2 separate regions of the Homo sapiens genome follow, and region 2 is linked to region 1. Evidence: fine-mapped QTL for protein levels in blood plasma. A gene starts in region 1. The other region holds a variant in brackets. All regions are shown on one strand. Distances are between the middles of the regions.

Region 1 (2,910 bases):
ATATAGAGAGAAAGGAGATGGAACTTGGAGGTAGCCGTAGTCCTGGACGGGGAGCCAGGAGCCCTGCAGCTCCAGGATCAGTCATTAACCACGACCCTTTGGACAGGCAGCCCAGGTCTTATCTGCACACCCGGCAGAGTGAGACCCAGACACGGGAGAGGAAGCGAGAGGCCCAGGCCAAGCTGAAGTCCGAGGCTCAGTCGCCCTCCGGAAACCTACTTCCACCCACTTCCTGTGTTCCGAGGGACTGGCTTCCCACGTCCGCGACCTGGCTCTGGCCTCGGAGAAGAACATCGCGACTACAACAACCGAGCCCCAGCAACCCAACCAGCTACCACCGCTTTCCCAGCCTGGCTGGCAGCCTACCGCGGCCACGCCCACCGCGGCTCAGGAAGCCGAACTTCACCGCGCAACTCCGACGTCTCCTCCCATTGGACAACCTGCCAGCCACTCGCGTTAATCCCGCAGGGCTATTGGCCAGAGTCTTTGTTTAATTACGTTTCCTTGGAGCCGCCCTGGCAGTGAGGCGCCCAGGCCTGCCCCCAGCACTTGGCTCCACCCCCTGACTGTCCCTTAACTCGTTGAGCGCGGCTGGAAATCCAAGCGCTTCTAGGTGCTGGTTCAATGCCTGGTTCATGATTTATTTCATTCTCTCCCTCCATCTTGCAATAGGTTACTTTTAATCATTTAGATCTATGACACTATGCTAAACGTTATAGGAGACAAAAAGACTGTGAACAAACAAGAAGAACCAAACGAAAAGAGCCAAGTCCAGGATTCTCGTTCAGATCAGCAAGTCATTGGGATCGAGCTCCTAGGGCAGCTACTACATCTGTTATGTCCTCAAGATAATCCCAGCACCTAGCACTGTGCCTGGCACAAAGTAGATCTTCAATGAAAGAACGAAACGAGCCGTTATATTTACACAGATGTATTTCACTCAGTCCTCTGGAAGAGATGCCTAGTGTGAAAGAGATTCCAAGAATAAATACCATAAACAGCACCGAGCCCAAATCCCACAGCAAACATCCTTATTAAAGGCAAGGAACGTGGGGCGAGTTCCTTTTCTCAGAAGATTTTACGAGAACGCAACTGTTGCGAAGAAGGAACAGACATTCGAGGTTCTGAGTCCAATGGGAACTCATTTAACTTTTTATTTTGCAGCAGATTTCAAAGTCTGCACCCAGCCCCTCCCAGGACACAGGTCTCCTTGCAGCTGCCTTTAACCTAAGCGTATCCTCTCTCCACTTTAAACCAAACGCCGCTGCATGGAGCCCTGGGAGCCTGAGCCATGAGAATCCTGTAAAGAGGGTGAGTCTTGCTATTAGTTAACTAGAGCGAAGTTAGGGGACGCCTTTCTGGTTCTCCTCTCGTTTTAAGAAGTCTCCAGGAAGTAAGCCAAGAGCTAGGAGAGACCAGGTTTCCCCAGCCCCGTCCTGGGTAAACACCCGGCGGGCTTTAGGACCCAGCGGTGGGCTCTCCGGAAGGGGAAGGGGCCGGGCCTCGAGGCACAAGCCGCTGCCGCCAGGGTTTGAACTGCGCGCATGCGCGGCGGCCGCCGAAGGGGCGGGATCCGAGGCAAGCGTTGGTTCTGTGCGCCTCAGGTACGTGTTGGGCGGCAGTGGGCGCGGACTCGGTGCGGTCTCTCGCGGGCTGCGGTCGGGCCCGGGATCCTGCTCCTGGCCGAGTCGCGGTGCGCGGGCTGCTGGGGTCCGGCAGGGCTGGAGGCGGACCGCGAGGAAGCGGCGCGGCCGGGAAGATGGGGCAGGGTCGCCTCGGCCCCGGGGCCTCGGTTTCCTCCGATCACAGCGCCTCAGGGGGCGCGCACGGGCGCTGCGGAGACCTGTGTCCTGCCGGGGCGCGGCGCTAGGGGCCCCTGCTCGGGTTTTTATTCCCAGACCTAAGCTTACAGGTGCGTGGTCCCAGAAAGTGAGTAGGAAAGCGCCCACCACGTGCCAGGCGCTTAAGCTTTCTGTGCTCGGTTTCCCAGTATAGGAGGACGGTCACGGTACGTAGTATAGAGTTGTCCTGAGGGTGAAGCGAGTTTACACTTGGTGAGGCGCTTCGAATCGTGCCTGGCCGGCCCCAAATGAGCACGCAGTAAGGTTAGCAGCTGCTGCCGTCACTTCCTCACGTTCTGAATCTGCTCCGTCCCCAACGCCTTCAGCAAGAGCCCTCTCACTTCCTTTGTCTTCAACCCATTCTCCGCAGAGTTGGAGCACACAGCTGTATTAAAAAGGCAAATCGAAGGCCGGGCGCGGTGACTCACGCCTGTCATCCTAGCACTTTGGGAGGCCGAGGCGGCTGAATCACTTGAGGTTAGGAGTTTGAGATCAGCCCGGGCAACATGGTGAAACCCCGTCTCTACAAAAATAGAAAAATTAGCCGAGCGTGATGGTGGATGCCTGTAATCCTAGCTCCTCGGGAGGCTAAGGTAGGAGAATTGCTTGAACCTGGGAGGCAGAGAGGTTGGAGTGAGCCGAGATTGCGCCATTGCGCTCCAGCCTGAGCGGCAGAGCGAGACTCTGTCTCAAAAAAATAAATGTAAATCGGACTCCCCTTCTTAAAGCCCTCAGTGGGGTCCCATTGATCATTGCATAAAATCCAATTTCTTTAACAAGTCTTCTCCCCTCACCCGCTTCGGACCACTGCCTGCCTTGCCTAAGTCCTTTCTTATGACCTCTTTCCCACCTCTGCCGGCTGGGTTCCCTCTACTTGGGAATGCTCTTCACCCCATCATTTAGACAGCAGGTTCCTTTTGGCCCTCTGGGTCTCATTTATATGTTACTTTTTAAGTATATTCCAAAGGTCACCCCTATTTTTCTGTCTCATACTTATAAAATGTAATGAATGTCTAACTCATCTTGGCTATTAAAATTTTTATGTGTGGGTCTGTCTCTTCTGCCCTGA
Region 2 (2,910 bases), 71 kb before region 1:
CATGTAAACAGTTGTTATACAATATTGTTTAGGAAATAATGACAAAGAAAAAAGTCTGTATATGTTCAGCGTAGATGTAACTTAAAAAAAATATTTTCTGTCCTCAGTTGGTTGAATCCACAGACATGGAACTTGCTGATATAGAGGGCCAAATGTACATTTACTTTTTATTTGGACACAAATGCCAAGTCACCTGTCACTTCTAAACCACTTCTCTGTTCATTTAATTATTCTTCCCAAGTACCTGTTAGATATAGACAAATTTAACAGCATTGTGGAATCTACTACAAATAATGTCCATATAGTCAGGTACAGTGGCTTACATCTGTAATCCAGCTACTCAAGAGATGGAGGTGGGAGACTGCTTGAGGCCAGGAGTTCAAGACTAGCCTGGGCAACAGAGTGAGACCTCATCTCCAAAAAAGTTTTAAAAAACTAGCTGGGCATAGTAGCACATGCCCATAGTCCCAGCTACTCCAGAGGCGGAGGTGGGAAGATTGCTTGAGCCCAGGAGTTTGAGGCTATAGTGAGCCATGCTCTCACCACTGCACTCCAACCTGGGCAACACAGGGAGACTCTGTCTCTAAAAAATAATAAGAAAACAGTAATTTTTAAATGCCCTTAACAAAAAAAAATTATACAATTGTATATCCTCTAAGCCTCACATTTACTAATGGTACAATAGTTCTATTTTTACTATTGGTCTACTGCATATCATCATCACATTAACAGGGTAAAGGAGAAAAATATGATTATGGCAACATGAGCAGAAAAAGCATTTAATAAAAGTCAGTATTTATTCATGATAAAATTTCTTAGCAAAGCAGGAGCTCCCTTAATCTAATAAAGGTTATTTATCCCCTAAAAACATAACAAAACCCAAAAACCTATTGCATATTCCATAGTTAATGTGAAATACTAAAGTTTTCCCCTCCCCCCACCAAGATGGGGAAGAAACAGGATACCTGCTCACATAACTTTTATTTATCACTATGTGGGAGACCCTAGCTGATATAGTAAGAAAAGAAAAAGAAATCAATGACATAAGAATTGGAAAAGAAGAAATAAAACTACTATTGTTTGAAGATGACTTGATTGCATGCCTAGAAAACATAAAATATATACTATTACAATTACTAAGACGAAGTACTAGAATAAGTTAACTTTGTATTATGTACTGAATGTGTGTGCCCACTCCTGCTCTAAATTCTGTGTCGAATCCCTCACCCACAATGTGACAGTATTTGGAGGTGGTGTCTTTGGGAAGTAATTAGGTCATGAGAGTGGGACCATCATAAGGGATTAGTGCTCTTATAAGAAGAGCAAGAGATCCCCCACTCTGTGCACATGTCCAGGAAAGGACCCAGAAGCACACAGCCAGGCAGGCAGCCATCTGCAAGCCAGGAAGAGCCTCCTCACCAGAACCAGACCATGCTGGCATCTGATTGCAGACTTCGCAGTCTTAAGAACTGTGAGAAAATAAATTTCTGTTGTTTAAGCCACCCAGTCTATGGTATTCTGTTACAACAGACGGACTAGACTAAGACATTCAGTCATGCTGCTGGTGTAAGACCAGCATATAAAAAACAATTGTATATCTAAATAAGTAGAAAATAAAATTTAAAAATCTATATAACTACATAAAAACCAAATATTTCAGAATTATCTGATA[A/C]AATATGTGTAAAACTTTTACATTAAAACTACAAAACAGCAAGGAAAGTTAAATAAGACCTTTAAAAACAAAAGGATATACTTTATTCATGCACTGGAAGACTTAAAACATTTTGGCATTGTCAGTTCTCCCCAAATTGATCTAGTCTAAAGATTCAATATAAATTCAATTAAAAACCCAGCCAGCGGGCGTGGTGGCTCAAGCCTGTAATCCCAGCACTTTGGAAGTCTGAGGCAGGTGGATTACGAGATCAGGAGATCGAGACCATCCTGGCTAACATGGTGAAACCCCATCTCTACTAAAAATACAGAAAATTAGCCAGGCGTGGTAGCGTGCGCCTGTAGTCCCAGCTACTTGGAGGCTGGGGCAGAAGAATCGCTTGAACCTGGGAGGTGGAGGTTGCAGTGAGCTGAGATCGCACCACTGCACTCCAGCCTGGGTGACAGAGCAAGACTCTGTTGAAAAAAAAAAAGAGAGAAAGAGAGAGAAAGAGAGAAAGAAAGAGAGAGAGAAAGAGAGAGAGAGAGAAAGAAAGGAAAGAAAGGAAAGAAAGAAAGAAAGAAAGAGAGAAAGAAAGAAAGAAGACAGCAACTAAAAGAAAGAAAGAAGGAAAGAGAAAGAAAGAAGACAGCAACTTTTGGGTTTGAAGTTGGCTTCTTGTTTTTTTCTTTTTTTTTCTTTGGTGGAAATTGAAAAACTGACTCTAAAATTTATTTTAAAACACAATGGGCTAAAAATAGCCAAGATAATTCTGAAGAAAACACAAAGCTCTAGGACTTACACTGCCAGACATCAAGATTACAAAGTTATATAATAAAGAGAGTGTGATACTGGCACAAAGATAGACAAACAGACCAATGCAACATAACAGAGAGTCAAGGGAAGAGTTAATGTTGCAGCCTCAAATCTGAAGGCAGCCTGTGGGCAGAACTGCTTCTTCCCTGGGGGACCTACATGTTTTCTCTTAAGGCATTCAACTGATTAGATGAGGCCCTCTCACCTTATAGAAAGTGATCTGCTCGGTCAGGCGTGGTGGCTCATGCCTGTAATCCCAGCACTTTGGGAGGCCAAGGCTGGTGGATCACGAGGTCAGGAGATCAAGACCATCCTGGCCAACTCTGTGAAACCCCGTCTCTACTAAAAATACAAAGAAATGAGCCGGGCGTGGTGGCGGGTGCCTGTAGTCCCAGCTATTCGGGAGGCTGAGGCAGGAGAATGGCATGAACCCTGGGGGCGGA

What was found. PIP is the posterior inclusion probability: the model's chance that the variant is causal. Protein levels are from antibody-based Olink assays in UK Biobank. Linkage for the fine-mapping came from a reference panel and not from the study's own genotypes, which makes the PIPs less certain.
Region 2: its variant is fine-mapped to the plasma level of the TDP1 protein (UK Biobank, PIP 0.93).

The regions. Positions count from the first base shown.
Region 1 is chr14:89,954,367-89,957,276 of GRCh38, forward strand. TDP1 (tyrosyl-DNA phosphodiesterase 1) reads left to right here and starts at 1,561. Exons shown (of 17, transcript NM_018319.4): 1 at 1,561-1,604; 2 at 2,212-2,434. EFCAB11 (EF-hand calcium binding domain 11) reads right to left here and starts at 364. Exons shown (of 6, transcript NM_145231.4): 1 at 220-364. The coding sequence starts at 294. RefSeq lists an enhancer at 93-593 and a silencer at 1,659-1,888.
Region 2 is chr14:89,883,543-89,886,452 of GRCh38, forward strand. The region is part of intron 5 of EFCAB11 (EF-hand calcium binding domain 11); the gene reads right to left. Among named protein-coding and RNA genes, the nearest start is that of EFCAB11, 70 kb to the right of the region's middle. The variant A/C (reference allele first, on the strand shown) is at 1,673.